Linked DNA regions of Homo sapiens: region 2 is linked to region 1. A link means that fine-mapping ties the variant in region 1 to the expression of a gene that starts in the linked region. Tissue or cell type: pituitary. Region 1 holds a variant in brackets; the other region holds the start of a gene. All regions are shown on one strand. Distances are between the middles of the regions.

Region 1 (8,105 bases):
GAATATTTCTTTCTTTCTTTCTTTTTTTTTTTTTTTTGAGACAGAGCCTTGCTCTGTCGTCCAGGCTAGTGCAATCTTGGCTCTCAGCAACTTCCACCTCCTGGGTTCAAGTGATTCTCCTGCCTCAGCCTCCCATGTAGCTGGGATTACAGGCACCCATCACCACGCCCAGCTAATTTTTGTATTTTTAGTAGAGATGGGTTTTCACCATGTCGGCCAGGCTTGTCTTGAACTCCTGAACTCAAATGATCCTCCCACCTTGACCTCCCAAATTGCTGGGATTACAGGCATGAGCCACTGTGCCTGGCCCCAGCTAACTTTTTCTGTTTCTGAGAATTCTCTCCCACTGGATCCTGTTTGCTGTTTCTTTCCTAGCATACCCTTCTTTGAAAACAAAAGACAACATAGCTTAGTGGTTTGGAGGTTTGGGCTGGACTTCCAGGGTTTAAAAGCTCTGACACTTGCAAGCTATGTGACGTTATTCAAGTTACTTTACTTCTTTGTGCTTCAATTACCTCATCTGTAAAATGATAATATCCATTTAACCTACCTCATAGAGTTGCTATAAAGATTAAATAACGATTTAAGTACCTTGCTACATATATCAGTGCTTTCTATTAAACAAGCAGACAAAACAATCCAAAACAAAGCAAGCACCTGCCTCCTCTCCCTCTCATCCCCATCAGATGCCCTCCACATGCCCTGGAAAGGAACCTGGGCTTACTTTTCCACGCCAGCCCAGTCCTTGTCCTGGGCCCACATGGTGAACTTCACCAAGAACAAGCCTCTTGACTGGCTATGGCTCCGCAACCACTATCACATGAGTTGGCCTCCTATACTCAGAACATCCTCCGTTTCTTTATGAAGTAACAAAAGAATGTATTGAATTTCAAATTGTAAGATCTCAGCTAGCTACTAGCTATGTGACTTTAGGAATATGTCTACACCATTCTGACACTTAGTTTTCTCCTCTAAAATGTAGATAATAGTAATGCTTACTTCCCATGATTCTATGTAGACTATTACATGAAATTTGGAAGTGGGAAGTTTTCTTGTTACAGCAACTAACATTACCATAACTGATACCCATATTATATTTGATCTTTACAATAATACCCTGAAGTACACATTATTATTTTCTTCACTTTATAGATTAGAAAACTGAGCCACAGAGGGATTAAGAAACTCGTCTAAAGTCACACAGTGAGAAAGGGCAGTGCAGGATGCGGACCTAGTTTGATTTCAGTGGCAGTGAATTCTCTTAACCACTAAGGATGTGAAAGAGGTTTATATGCTCAAGCCTCCTAGAAGTAATAATAATAAGGGCTGATACTTATTGAACCTTTATGTGCCAGGCACTATTCAAAGAGCTTTACATTCATTTAATTCTTACAACCCTCTGGAGTTGGCTCTAGTGTTATTCCCATTCTATAAATTAGGAAAACTGAGGCACAAAATGTTAAATAACTTGCATGGGATCGCAGAGCTGCCAAGTGGTAGAGATGCATTTCAAGCCCGGCCAGCCCAGTTTTCACTCTATCCCCACCCCTTATTCTCTGATCTTCACTACTGGAAGAATGAGCAGATTCTGAGATTCTGAGAGGCCAAGGAAGTAGCAGAACTATATGCCCAAACCCCAGCTCAACCTCAAGCCAGGTGCTCTATTCCAGCATTCACCAGGGGTTCCAGACAAATAGCAAAGTGAGAAATGCATTTTAGAAGTCTTGTGGTCTACAGTGACCCTTGCAAATATCTCGAACAGCATGGTGGAGTAGAAGGAACCCAGAAGGGCGTGGCTTCAGACTCATCCACTGCCTATTCCCTGTGAGACTGAGAAGGCTGCTTACTCTCTGTGAGGCTCAGTGACCTCATAAAATGGCAACACTGATCATACCTGCCTTGTTGGTTTGCTGCAAGGACAGAGCCTGTGCCTAGAGAGTCCAGCACAGAAAGCTGCTCTATAACTGTCATCCCCCACACTGATCAGCCCAGAAGCAAAGACCCGCCTTGCAAGTTCATCCCATTTCCCACCAGTCTAATCCTCCAATTCTACACCCAGTTCTCCCTCCATGAGGCAGAGATGCTCTTTCCTTGAGATTCCTTCCTTCCTTGAGGTCAGAGAAGAAGGAAGTAACTAAAGGAGGCTGGAAGGCCAGACCTTGAGCATTAGGTTCCTTTTTTGGAAGAGGAGGTCAAGTTGCTTAGCAACACAGCAGGAGGTTGTCAGGGAGGCTTCAGGCAGCACTGTCCGTTTTTATCCTGCAGTATGGAGAGATCTGGAGCAACACAAGATAGGGAGATGGATGGGAAAAGTGACAAAAGATCCCAGGCTCCGATGATAACCTCTTGGAGTCAGCCTCCTTTCCTATGATCACCTTCCCAATCCCCCAACCTTTCCCCCTGGTTTTCTACTTTTGACACACAGTTCTAGGGCATCTTGCACACACATTTGTGCAATGGCCATGTCTATGACCATGAACATGAGGGCCAGACTCAGGACCACCTTGTATTTATTATATGCTTTACAACTTACAGATCACATCATAGACACAATTTCAAATGATACTTGCAGCAGCCTCATTAATCATGGGAAAAGGCAAGGCATATGGCTCATGCCTATAATCCCAGCACTTTGGGGGACCAAGGTGGGCAGATAACCTGAGGTCAGAAGTTCGAGACTAGCCTGGCCAACATGGCGAAACCCTGTCTCTACTAAAAATACAAAAATTAGCTGGGCATGGTGGCGGGTGCCTGTAATTCCAGTTACTTGGGAGGCTGAGGCAGGGGAATCGCTTGAACCCGGGAGGCGGAGGTTGCAGTGAGCCCAGATCATGCCACTGCACTCCAGCCTGAATAACAGAGCAAGACTCCATCTCAAAAAATATATATAATATATATTCTTATATATTATACATTATTATATATAACATATTAATATTATACATTATTGTATATAACATATTAACATTATACATTATTGTATATAACATATTAACATTATACATTATTGTATATAACATATTAACATACATTATTGTATATAACATATTAACATCATACATTATTGTATATAACATATTAACGTCATACATTATTGTATATAACATTAACGTCATACATTATTGTATATAACATATTACCGTCATACATTATTGTATATAACATATTAACGTCATACATTATTGTATATAACATATTAACGTCATACATTATTGTATATAACATATTAACGTCATACATTATTGTATATAACATATTAACGTCATACATTATTGTATATAACATATTAACGTCATACATTATTGTATATAACATATTAACGTCATACATTATTGTATATAACATATTAACGTCATACATTATTGTATATAACATATTAACGTCATACATTATTGTATATAACATATTAACGTCATACATTATTGTATATAATAATATATATCAATATTCTATATATAATATATCAATATTCTATATATAATATATCAATATTCTATATATAATATATCAATATTCTATATATAAAATATATCAATATTATATATATATATATATATGTAGTGGGAAGATGATCATGATTCCTATATAACAGATGAGGAAAACAAAGTCCCAAGTTCCCACAGTGAGGAAATAGCAGAGTCCAGATTTGCTGCAAATCTCAGGATAGTTCTACTATACCCTGATGCATGGACATTAGTGCAGTCATTAGCAACGTGTGTGCATGCCATTCTTAGGGCCTAGTGTCCCAAGATGCATCTCCTCTCACCCCTGATCAGCAGGGGAATTGTGAAGGAAGGACTCAGCTGTTCTTCCCTGTTGGTTCCAACCAGCCTGGGGGGATCCCTGGAGTGGGAAGTCCCAAAAGGGGCCTGGCCTGCTGGCCCAAAGACCTAGACTCAAGAATGTTGCTATGTTAGGCCAGGCTGGCAAAAGTATCTACATACTGACAGCAGAAGCAAGTCCTCTGGCTGGCATTCTAAAGAGAGGCACGTGGGTCACACTGGGACCAAGGCCTGGCAGCAAGGAGTAAACACAGTCATCCAGGTCACAGGATAGCTCATGGGAGGCCCAGGCCTTCAGGGCTCCCCACTATCTCAGGGGCCAGCAAAGCTGGTTAGAGCACCCCAGGGCCCCATTCTGGACTCTGTCCCTGTCCTGGTCATTGTTTAGTCCCTGTTAATAGTTATTAATAGTGCTGACTACTATAGCAATAGTTCTTACCCTAACAACAGTAATATGTCATTCCTATCATAGGCACCTGATAGACACTAACCCAAGATCTTATTCCGATCTGATAGATGAGAAAACTGAAATTCAAAGAGATTGAATTGCTGTCTTCGATTAGTAGCTAATATATGG[T/C]AGAGGAGAGACTCAAACCTCTGACTCATAGTCTTTTGTTCCGTGCATCACATCACACTAACTTTAAATGTCAGGGAGGAGAAAGGACCCCCAGGGGAACATTCAGCCACCTCCCACTCCTATATCCCCAAACTGCACATGCTCAGGACCATGTAGTCCAGCATGGCTCCGTTGGTGCTCTATACAGGACAGGTAATTTGAATAATTATTTTGATTAAAATTGTATCAACTTCCAGAAAATGATTTTACATGACTTACCATATTAAAATGTACATAAAAGAAGATATTCAAATTTAAAAGACAAATTTAAAAAGCCATTGGTAAAATATGAGAAGTATTCTTATAAAAGGGAAAAGGAAAGATGTCTTTTTTATCCCTTTTAATTTTGTCATCACTACTACCACTGAACACTGTACTGGAGAGCCTAGACAATGCAACAAGACAGGAAAAGATATACACTGTGTGTAAATATTGAGAGGGAAGATACTAAAATTTCCTTGTTTACAGATGATATGACTGCCTACCTATAAAATCCAAGAGATTCAACTAGAACACGGTTAGAACTAATAAAATTCCAGTAAGGTATAAGATCAACATACCAAAAAAAAAAAAAAAAAATACGGCTCCCCTATAACCCTGTAAAAAGAAGAAAAGGAATTGAGAATTGCAAGCTTACAACAGCAATACAAATATGCTCCCAGATCAACCTAATGAAAACATGAGAAACATCTAAATAAAGAAAGCTATAAATATTCACTAAGGAACTGAAGTAAGAAGACCTGAGTAAATGAAGAGACTGAGCACGTTCCTGGGTGGAATGACTCAATATTGCAAAATTGACATATCTCCAAATTGATCTATAAAAGTGATGCAGTCCCAATTCAAGTCACAAAGGGATTTTATGGAAATTGACAGGCTTGGTTCTCAAGTTCTTCTGTACTGTGATTAAGAATAGACAAGACACGACCAGGTACTGTGGCTCATGCCTGTAATCCCAGCTTTTGGGAGGCTGAGGTGGGTGGATCATTTGAGGTCAGGAGTTCGAGACCAGACTGGCCTACATGGTGAAACCCTGTCTTTACTAAAAATACAAAAATTAACTAGGCACAGTGGTGCATGCCTGTAGTTCCAGTACTCGGGAGGCTGAGGCAGGACAATCACTTGTACCCGGGAGGTGGAAGTTGCAGTGAGCCAAGATTGCATCACTGCACTCCAGCCTGGGTGACAAAGTGAGACTCCATCTCAAAAAAAAAAAAAAAAAAAAAGACAAGACAATTTTAGCAAAAGAATAATGAGCATGCTGCAAAACTAGTTATTAAAGAAGTGGTTTGAAACAGCAGTAGTTAAGCAGATTAATGGAACAGAGTAAAGCCTCGAAATAGATTCATATGTGTGGGAATTTCATAAATAATAAGATGGTATTTACTGGGGGTAAAGGAAGACTGTTCAACGATTGGCACAACTTAGTAGTCATTTGGGGAAAATAATTATATCTCTACCTCTCGCCACATACAAAGTTGAATTCCAAAATAGATTAAAGAATGAAATGAAGACACTATAAAAGCACCAGGATAAAATTCAAAGTGTTTTAAAATGCAAAGTAAAGCCAACCAAAAACCTAGCACAAATCAAGAACAATTGAAAAGAGAAGAGAGGCCGGGAGAGGTGGCTCACACCTGTAATCCCAGCATTTTGGGAGGCTGAGGCAGGCAGATCACCTGAGGTCAGGAGTTTGAGACCATCCTGGCTAACACGGTGAAACCCTGTCTCTACTAAAAAATACAAAAAATTAGCCGGGCATGGTGGCGGGCGCCTGTAGTCCCAGCTACTCGGGAGGCTGAGGCAGGAGAATGGTGTGAACCCAGGAGGCGGAGCTTGCAGTAAGCCGAGATCGCGCTACTGCACTCCAGCCTGGGCGACAGAGCGAGACTCCATCTCAAAAAAAAAAAAAAAGAAAAGAAAAGATAAAACATCTAGGAGAAGTTAGTTACCATAGGTGTGTTCTAAAAATGTGTATTTGGTGGCATGCTTATTGGCAACCAAAGGTAAACATGCAGACTGTCACACCTTTTAGTCCATTTATTCTTTTATTCTTTGTTCTAAGGAGGTAAGTGGGCAAAGACGTGACACACAAATGCTTATCATAACATTTATCATAATAAAAAAATGGCTATTACCTGAATAAACATCAGCTCTTATTTATTGAGAGCCTACCTCATGCCAGGCACTGTGCTAATTCTCATTATTCAAAGGATATGAACAAGTTAATGTGAAGAGAAAAATTTCCCCTAGCTTTATTATTTGAATAAAGGACAGTGGATCTTCTATGGCACTTATGAAAAAGATAGAGAAGTGCTTTTTAAATGCTCTTGGATGGATCCTTGTAAGAGTGTGCACATATGTGTGTCCATGCTCTGTGTGTGGGCATGCACCTTATATGTGCTTTGTGTGTAATAGACATGGCTGCCAGGCTGGACAGGAGCTTAACTCCCCTTATCCAGCAAGGGACATTGTTAAACCCTAGGGATTTGGAAACAGCTTGGGGTTGGGGGAAGGAGCAAAGGGACTTTGGAGATGTGTGAGAGGGGAGTGGGGGACATGGCTGCAGAAATGTGTTTCTCCTTTTCCAGACACTGTCCAGTGTCACTTTTTTTCCTGTTCCTCCTTCCTTATCTCTTTCTCTTTCCCTCTTCCTTCTCTCTCTCTTTCTCTCTCTCTCTCTTGCTCCCTCTCTATTTTTCTCTTTTTCTTTCTTTCCTTATAATTCTCTTCTTTTTTAGGTCATAATAATATATTTTCAGGAAGATAAATGCTATGAAGAAAATAAATTAGGGGCATGTGATTGAGGGTAACTGTGGGACAGATTGAGATTAATTCAGGAGATGATGATGAGAAGGAGGAGTCTATTAAGTCGAGATCTAAATAACAAGAAGGAGACAGCTGTTTAAATCTCTCTCTCTCTCAGAAATGGGATGATATGACAATGTTTTCAATCTCCTATTTCCATTTCATCGTGCCATTTTTGTCATGTTGATAAATATATATTGATGTACAATTTTTTTTTTGAGACAGTCTCACTCTGCTGCCCAGGCTGGAGTGTAGTGTGGCTCAATCTTAGCTCACTGCAACCTTCACTTCCCGGGCTCAAGTGATCCTCCCTCCTCAGCCCCCCAGTAGCTGGGACTACAGGCACAGCCACCATGCTCAACTAATTTTTGTATTTTTAGTAGAGACGAAGTTTCACCATGAGGCTCGTCTCAAACTCCTGAGCTCAGGTGATACACCTGCCTCGGCTTCCCAAAGTGCTGGGATTGCAGGTGTGAGCCACCGTGTCCAGACTGATGTACAATTTTTTTTTTTTTTGAGACGGAGTCTTGCTCTGTGGCCAGGCTGGAGTGCAGTGGTGTGATCTCGGCTCACTGCAACCTCCGCTTTCCAAGTTCAAGCGACTCCTCTGCCTCAGCCTCCCGAGTAGCTGGGACTACAGGCACGCACCACCACTCCCGGCTAATTTTTTGTATTTTAGTAGAGATGGGGTTTCACCATGTTGGCCAGGATGATCTTGATCTCCTGACCTCGTGATCCGCCTGCCTCGGCCTCCCAAAGTGCTGGGATTACAGGCTTGAGCCACCACGCCCGGCCTGATGTATAATTTTTAATGGTCCATAATATCCCAGTGAATATCACTTTATCACAATTTACTTAATCTCCTTCTAATGTTCATTTAGGTTGTATCCAATTTTTTA
Region 2 (8,105 bases), 240 kb before region 1:
ACCTCCCTTCCCATCCCGTCCTCTCTGTGGGCTGGTGGCAAGGACCCTCGGGGTAAAACTAATGGTTAGGACTCACACTTTTCTCCTCACCCCAGACACGAGGCTCTGTTGTCCCGAGGTGGGGTGTATGCTGACATGTGGCAGCTGCAGCAGGGACAGGAAGAAACCTCTGAAGACACTAAGCCTCAGACCATGGAACGGTGACAAAAGTTTGGCCACTTCCCTCTCAAAGACTAACCCAGAAGGGAATAAGATGTGTCTCCTTTCCCTGGCTTATTTCATCCTGGTCTTGGGGTATGGTGCTAGCTATGGTAAGGGAAAGGGACCTTTCCGAAAAACATCTTTTGGGGAAATAAAAATGTGGACTGTGCGAGGATCACTGTGGCTTTGTGGGATGGGGTACTGCAGCGGGCCTCTACCCATAAGTCAGATGAGCATTCTTGACACGGCTTTCCTGTTTGAGGTTAGAGAGGAGAGAGAAACACACCACTTGTACGTTTTATCAACTGCCAAGATCCTTTATTTTTTCCAGGCCCCTTCCTGCCCACTCCACATCGGGGCAGCTCCAGCATAAGGGAGATGACATGATGAAGGGGCTAAGAGTAGGGCCTGGCCAGCATCCACTGAGGGCCCAACCAGGGAACAGTTGCTAGCCGCTCTCTTCCATGCAGCTGGAGCACTAGCAAGGCCTTCCAGAGGCTCCCAGGGCGACCTCCACATCACTCCCGCTTGTCTCTGCCCTCCAGGGTGCTCCGGGCCTCCTCTCCCTGTGTACCCTAGAGGTGTGAGGGCCACAGTCCTCCTCAGGTGAACCTCCCTCCCCAAGCCCAGGGCCCTAGCACAGGCTGCAGTTGGACGGCTTCGAGCTGCGGCTCTGGGCCTAGAGCAAAGAGAGGGGAAGGAGGGGAAGACACAGTGCAACGTCAAGGAAATGAGGGACAGCCCTCATTTCAGAGCTCAGCATGGGCTGGAGTCATACTGAAAACCAGACGATAACCACCATTCCAAAACTCTGCACCACTAGGAAGAACCCCCATCCCTGACTTCTTCCTCCCTTCCACTGCAGCATATATCTTCAGCCCAGCCTCATACCTGCTGCCGCTGGTATTCTGCCTCACTGGCTGACAGTGCTTGTGCTAAAGCTAGGTCTTCTTCCTCCTGACAACTGGGAGGGAGAAACAGTTTAAGTTGGATGATGGTAAGATCTGAAATTTGAACATCTGATCTGTGTGTGTTGGGCCTCATGGTGCTGAGCACTGCTGAGGATTATCTCAATCTTCATAGCAACACTACAAGGTGGGTATTAGTATTGTCCCCGTTTTATAGAGGAAATGAAGGCTCCATGGGTTAAATAACTTGTCAAAGATCATATAGTTCATCTTAATTTTGAGACCAAGTTGCCAGCGATTATCTTGCATTGTGTCAGAGTGGTCCCACCTACCTGCCTCCAGACCAAGCCCTTGCCCACAGCTTGCGCTCTCTTTCACAAGAGGGTAAGGTACCTTGGAACCTGGGGTTTGGTTTCTGCCAGGGACATTTCCAGGGCCCGCTGCAGAGCTTCATCCTCACTCTACAAAGGGAGAAAGAAGACCAGCGTCCTTGGACTTCACTCTCTGTGTGTTTGTTTCTGTCCATCCAACCTCTGCCCAACTCACCAGGCCATTCTGCAAAGCAATCACTGGAGGGGCTGTCCAGGACGGAGATCGGGTTGTGGCTCTACGACAGACATTGAAGAGGTGGAGGTCAGAGGTGTGAAGGGGAAAAAGGGGGAGCAGGGAAACGGGCAGGCCTACCTGCTGGGAGAGGTACAGGAAGGCATGGTTTGACTTGGGCTGGGGACAGTGCTTGTAGAAGCCACAGCTTGTGCTCTGGAGATGGCAGCAAGTCTGTAGGGAAGAGAGATTTTTGGCATGTCTCCAAGAACTAGCCTTACCCAGGAAGTCAGGAGGGGAGTTCTGGAAAAACATGCACTTGAAAAGGAAGCTAAAAGACTCCCCTAGCCGACAGGGTAGGGTTGAAGCTCCCCAATTTATAACAACAGAGCTTGAGTCAGTTCCAAAAGAATGCTTCCCAAAAGCAAGTGGAGGACTTGGCTGCCATTACCCTGCCCGGCTGGTTGGGTGCCCCTCCCCAGAGCAATCATGGTCCAGTGGATGCCGGTGCTTGATGCAGAAGTTTCGGCTACAGCGTTCACAGGTCAGTTTCATCATTTCTCGCTGCCGGCAGCCAGCGCGTTCACACTTATTGGTGAAGATCTGAGGTGAAGTGAGAAGGTTGTCTCTGCTGAGACTCTGATTAGCTGTTTGGGTTTCCAGGCATCCGTAGTCCCAGCTGGGTTGTGGCTGACCCCTACAATGTTTACCTTACGTTTTTGCTGTGCTGGATCAGAGCGACAGTCTCTGTCAATGTGCTCTCCCACAGCACGGTCAGGGGGCTCCCCTCTGGCCACAGGCACAGGCACATTACAGAGAGGGCACACAGGTACCTGGATATCCTGTAGTCAAGGAGCAAGGGTCAGTCTGTGGCCCACTCCAGTCCAACAAATCTCTGGTCCTGAAAGAACTTGGATATGACCCACCACAAACACGCAAAAAAACAGTGTTTCCCAGCACTGACAGCCTCAGAAGGACAAAAGGGAGAAGAAACGTGAGACACAGATTTGGGGGATTCTGCACGCATTCTCCATCTGCCTGCTTTCACCCTGAGGATCGCCCCCTCACCTTTTGGTAAGCAGATCCACAGTGATGCTGGGCGTAGGCCACATGGTCTGCGCAGAAGATGCCTGAGCAGGCATCACACTTAAGCGGCAGAAAATCTGCAAAGAGTTGGTCGGATTGCAGGTCCAGCGGGACCTCGATGTCCTTCTCTCTCACTCAAGTCTTCCACTCGGGAAGGAAAACGCCACCCTATTTTCGACACACCGCCCCTTCCCAAGCCCATTACCTCCTTGGCCACGCCCCCTCTGCCGCTGACCACCCCCCCCCAGCTTCAAGCCCCGCCCCCCGGCATTGCCAGCCTGGGAGCCCACCCTTCCCTCCCAACCTGCGGTTCAAAGTCCCTGTCCGCTGGGCCCCGCCCCCCGCGCGCTCCGCCCCTCACCCAAGCGCTGACAGCTCGGCTCCGAACAGTGAGCGCCGAGGTCCGGAAACTCCATCGCCAAGCCGGGCAGGGTCTGCTAGGAGAAGCGACGAGTGCTGAGCGTCTTTAGGGCTCGTGCTCGAAGTCCGCACCGCGACCCCGCACTCTGGCGGGCTCCCTGCCCCGCCCCTTCCTCTCCCCCGCCCAGCCCGGGTTACCGGAGCCCCCGCGCCAGCCGGCCCCCGGCGCCCGCTCCTCCCTCGGCGCGCGCGGCGCGCTGACGTCATCCCGCAGGGCTGGCGCGTCCGGCGCAGTCTCCGGGCAGCCGGGGAGGGCCTCGGTTGAGCCCCGCCCCGCCTCGCCTTGCTCTAGAAGGCTGAGTCGGAAGACTGTCCCGAGGCGAGAGGGTGTTGATGCGCGGCTCCGCCACCCTGGGCGCGGGCGTAGCTCCGCAGAGGAAGGCCAGCGAAGGCAAAGACGGATATCTTGGGGGATGGAAGGCTGGGTGGTTTGGGGTCTTTCACAATTCGGTCCTTAGCCCGCTTCACACACGATGCCCTCCTCCTGGCCATTTTGTTCACGGCCACGGCTGCCCTTCGCCTCCACGAGCTGACAGCTCCTGTATTTCTCTGAAGTACAGACGTCTCTAGAGCTGCAGATCCCTCCTCAGTCTGAACTAGGCGCACCTGCTATGTGATCTTACTTCTTCCATTCTAGCACCCATATCACTAATGCGACCAACCCCTATATGAGCATACTGGGAAATCAGGAACCACGTCTACCTTGTTTCGTGTTAGGTCCCAGCACCTAACAGTGCCTAGAACAGTGTGGTCCTCAGTCTTTAGTGTGAATCCAAATCGCCTACGGAGCTAGTTTAAAATGCGGATTTCCGGGCCCTGGAGCTTCTAATTCAGTAGGAAGCACCTGAAGGAATTCTGACACAGATTGCCATGCACCACACTCTGAAAAACCCTAGCCTAGAATATTCTTAGTAATTATTGAATGTAGCCAGGACTACAGGCACAAGCCACCGTGCTCAGCTAATTTTTAATTTTGTAGAAATGGGGTTGGGGAGGGGTCTCTCTTTGTTGCCCAGATTGGTCTCGAACTCCTGGCCTTAAGTGATCCTCCTGCCTTGGCCTCCCAAAGTGCTGGGATTACAGACGTGAGCCACCACACCTGACCAATATAATTTTTTTTTTTTTGAGACACAGTGTCACTCTTGTCACCCAGGCTGGAGTGCAGTGGCATGATCTCGGCTCACTGCAACCTCTGCTTCCCGGGTTCAAGCGATTCTCCTGCCTCAGCCTCCCAAGTAGTTGGGACTACAGGTGCACACCACTGCGTCCAGCTAATTTTTGTATTTTTAGAGACGGCGTTTCACCATGTTGCCCAGGCTGGTCTCGAACTCCTGACCTCGTGATCTGCCCGCCTCGGCCTCCCAAAGTGCTGGGATTACAGGCATGAGCCACCACTCCCAGCCAATATTCTTTTTATTTTAAATTGCATCCAGGACTTTATAAATGCTTTTATTTTGTTTCAATATATAACTGTCAGATTTCAAATAATTTTTTCCCAGTCTCATTATAATCATTTGGTTCTAAGAATTTTGTTTATTCATTTTTTTTCCTCTCTATATTCATCAGTACAATTTAGAATTGTAGGCTTCCAGTCCCGGCATGGTGGCTGACGCTTGTAATTTCAGCACTTTGGGAGGCTGACGCAGGAGGATCGCTTGAGCCTAGGAGTTCCAGCCTGGGCAACATAGTGAGACCCTGTCTCTACAAAAATAGAAAGAATTGTAGGCTTTCAGTTTGGAGAAACGTGTATGGAGCAGACTAAACAAAGATAAACACTGCCTCTCTCCCCACTCCCACTTTACAAATGCTCAGATAACCAAAGCCTTGTGGAACTCAAAAAATAAAAATCTTCGGATCTCATTTTTGAGCATGAGCCAGAATGCTTGAAGTGCAAATGTAGTCATTTGTTCTTATGTTGCTATACAGAAATACCTCGCTAGGCATGGTGGCTCATGCCTGTAATCCCATCCCTCGGAGGCCAAGGTGGGAGGGTCACTCGAGTCCAGGAGTTTGAGACCAGCCTGGGCAACATAGTAAGACCTCCCTCTCTACAAAAAAAATTTTTAAAAAGTTAGCTGGGCATGGTGGCATCCACCCGTTGTCCCAAATACTCGAGAGGCTTTGGTGGGAGGATTGCTTGAGCCTAGGAGCTCGAAGTTGCAGTGAGCTATGATTGTACCACTGTGCTTCAGCTGGATAACAAAGTGAGACCCTGTCTTTAAAAAAAAAAAAAAATCTGAGGCTGGTTGATTTATAAAGAAAGAGGTTTAATTTATTCATGGTTCTGCAGACTGCATAGGAAGCATGGTGCCAGCATCTGCTCAGCTTCTGGTGAGGCCTCAGGAAGCTTCTAATCATTGCAGAAGGCCTAGGGGGAACAGGCATGTCACATGGCAAGAGTGGGAGCAAGAGAGAGAAGAGGGAGGTCCCAGAGTCTTTTCAAAACCAGATCTGATGTGAACTGAGTGAGAATTCACTCATCACCAAGAGGATGGCACTAAGCCATTCATGAGGGGTCCACTCTCAGGTTCCAATCACCTCCTGCCAGGTCCCACCTCTGACATTGGGAATACATTTCTTTTTCTTTTCTTTTTTTTTTTTTTTTTTTCTTTTTTGAGACAGAATCTCACTCTGTCGCCCAGGCTGGAGTGCAGTGGCACAGTCTCAGCTCACTGCAACCTCCGCCTCCCGGGTTCATACCATTCTCCTGCCTCAGCCTCCCAAGTAGCTAGGATTACAGGCGCATGCCACCACGCCCGGCTAATTTTTTGTATTTTTAGGAGAGATGGGGTTTCACCGTGTTAGCCAGGATGGTCTCGATCTCCTGACCTCGTGATCCGCCCGCCTCGGCCTCCCAAAGTGCTGGAATTACAGGCATGAGCCACTGCGCCCGGCGGGAATACATTTCAACATGAGATTTGGAGGGGACACATATCCAGACCATATCATGCCATAACAGACTTACCTCAGAGACCCCAGCGACCACGATAAAAGTGAATGAAGCTCTCACGGTAGTATCTCTCTTCCCAGGCAAATATTTTTCTGACTGATGGGTTATAGTCCTGACTAAGCTCTCTGTGCTGATTACCAGCCCAGGGGCTTTCTCACTGGGTGATGTTCTCATCCCACGATTTAAAAAGAGTGCCCGCACAAACCAAAGTCACCATTCCCCAATGTAGCCTCCTTGCTTCCTGAATAAAAGAAGCCAGGAGAACACTGAGAGAGAAATCAAATAACATTTTGCAACTTGAATTAGCTATTTTAGGAGATATCAATTAACAACTGAGCATTACTTAAGTCTCTTTTATTGTAGACCAACAAAGCATACACAGACCTGCTAAGCAGCCTTGCGCTTTAGCTGTGGGTAACTGAGCTGCAGCCTCTCATTGGGACAGTAGACATAGGTTCCTCTAAAATTCGCAGGCATAGTCATAGCCAGACGCCAGTTATTTTAGCTTTAGCAGGTCTAAAGCAGACAAGGTCAAACTGAGGATAGCCAGAAAAGGTGTCTTGGCTCCAATTCAACTTGAATATTAGTTTAATGGTATTTGTCTCAGTGGTTTTCCGCCTCTCAATTGACTCTTAGTGAAACAGTGCATATAGAAATGGAAGGAAAAGGCCAGGCACGATGGCTCATGCCTATAATCCCAACACTTTGGGAGGCTGAGGTGGGCAGATCACCAGAAGCCAGGAGTTCAAGACCACCCTGGCCAACATGGTGAAACCCTGTCTTTACTAAAAATACAAAAATCAGCCAGGCATGGTGGCAACAGAGCGAGACTATGTCTCAATTAATAAAGAAACAGGAAAAAAAAGAAATGGAAAGAAAAACTAGCACTTATTGTTGTGTCCTGCTCTTCCTCATGTGTTAGCTTATTTAATCCCCTGTGAAAATCCTTTGAAGTAGGCCGGGCACGGTGGCTCACGCCTGTAATCCCAGCACTTTGGGAGGCCAAGGCGGGCAGATCACAAGGTCAGGAGATCGAGACCATCCTGGCTAGCACGGTGAAACCCTGTCTCTACTAAAAATACAAAAAATTAGCTGGGCGTGGTGGCGGGCACCTGTGGTCCCAGCTACTCGGGAGGCTGAAGCAGGAGAATGGCGTGAACCCAGGAGGCGGAGCTTGCAGTAAGCCGAGATTGTGCCACTGCACTCCAGCTTGGGCAACAGAGTGAGACTCTGTCTCAAAAAAAAAAAAAAAAAAAGAAAGAAAATCTTTTGAAAAAGATATCATGTATCCCCATTTTGCAGATAAAAAATCTGAAGTTGAGAGAGATTAAATTACTTGCTACGAAGTCAGAATCTGGACCTAAATTTTTGTATTGTCTTCAGTTCTATGTTCTTTCCATCATACAAATTTGCCTCCCAAAAATCTACTCTTGGACCCTCCTTAACTACTGAAAAGAGGAATCTTTTTTTTTTTTTTTTGAGATGGAGTATCGCTCTGTCGCCCAGGCTGGAGTGCAGTGGCATGATCTCAGCTCACTGCAACCTCTGCCTCCTGGGTTCAAGCAACTCTCCTGCCTCAGCCTCCCAAGTAGCTGGGACTACAGGCGCCCGCCACCACACCCGGCTAATTTTTAGTAGAGATGGGGTTTCACCATGTTGGCCAGGCTGGTCTAGAACTCCTGACCTCATGATCCACCCACCTCTGCCTCCCAAAGTGTTAGGATTACAGGTGTGAGCCACCATGCCCAAGTCAAAAAAAGGAATCTTAAGTGATGATTTTTCTCAGAGTGTTTGGGGAAAATCCCAAATCTCTCCGTGGGTTATCAAAAATCAAACACCTTATCAGTGCAAGGTATTTAAATATTTAAGTGAAGTACCAGGATGCGGAAGCTGATTGAAGCTGGTTTCAGATCCTAGGAGATTAGTCGGCTGGCATGACTGCCTTCCCTGAGTTCTGCCTTGCTCCCTTGGGTGTGTGATACACAATCTTTGTGACA

Alleles and levels. Positions count from the first base shown, and alleles are read on the strand shown. Sizes are in standard deviations (SD) of each study's normalised expression.
In carriers of allele T in region 1, the expression in pituitary of the gene that starts at base 3,360 in region 2 tends to be higher than with C alone (small effect, 0.32 SD a copy in GTEx).

Evidence for each region. PIP is the estimated chance that this variant, and not a neighbour inherited with it, causes the effect.
Region 2: it holds the start of ZFAND2B, and the variant in region 1 is fine-mapped to the expression of ZFAND2B in pituitary (GTEx, PIP 0.98).

What each region holds. Positions count from the first base shown.
Region 1 is chr2:218,967,022-218,975,126 of GRCh38, reverse strand. No RefSeq gene overlaps it. Among named protein-coding and RNA genes, the nearest start is that of LINC00608, 5.2 kb to the left of the region's middle. The variant T/C (reference allele first, on the strand shown) is at 4,360.
Region 2 is chr2:219,202,037-219,210,141 of GRCh38, reverse strand. ZFAND2B (zinc finger AN1-type containing 2B) reads right to left here and starts at 3,360. Exons shown (of 9, transcript NM_138802.3): 1 at 3,100-3,360; 2 at 2,721-2,815; 3 at 2,363-2,494; 4 at 2,104-2,255; 5 at 1,794-1,886; 6 at 1,656-1,716; 7 at 1,503-1,570; 8 at 1,093-1,165; 9 at 494-880. The coding sequence starts at 3,154. The coding sequence ends at 836. It overlaps ABCB6 (ATP binding cassette subfamily B member 6 (LAN blood group)), which reads left to right. Exons shown (of 19, transcript NM_005689.4): 19 at 96-370. The coding sequence ends at 204. RefSeq lists enhancers at 1,902-2,401, 3,519-3,768 and a silencer at 3,069-3,468.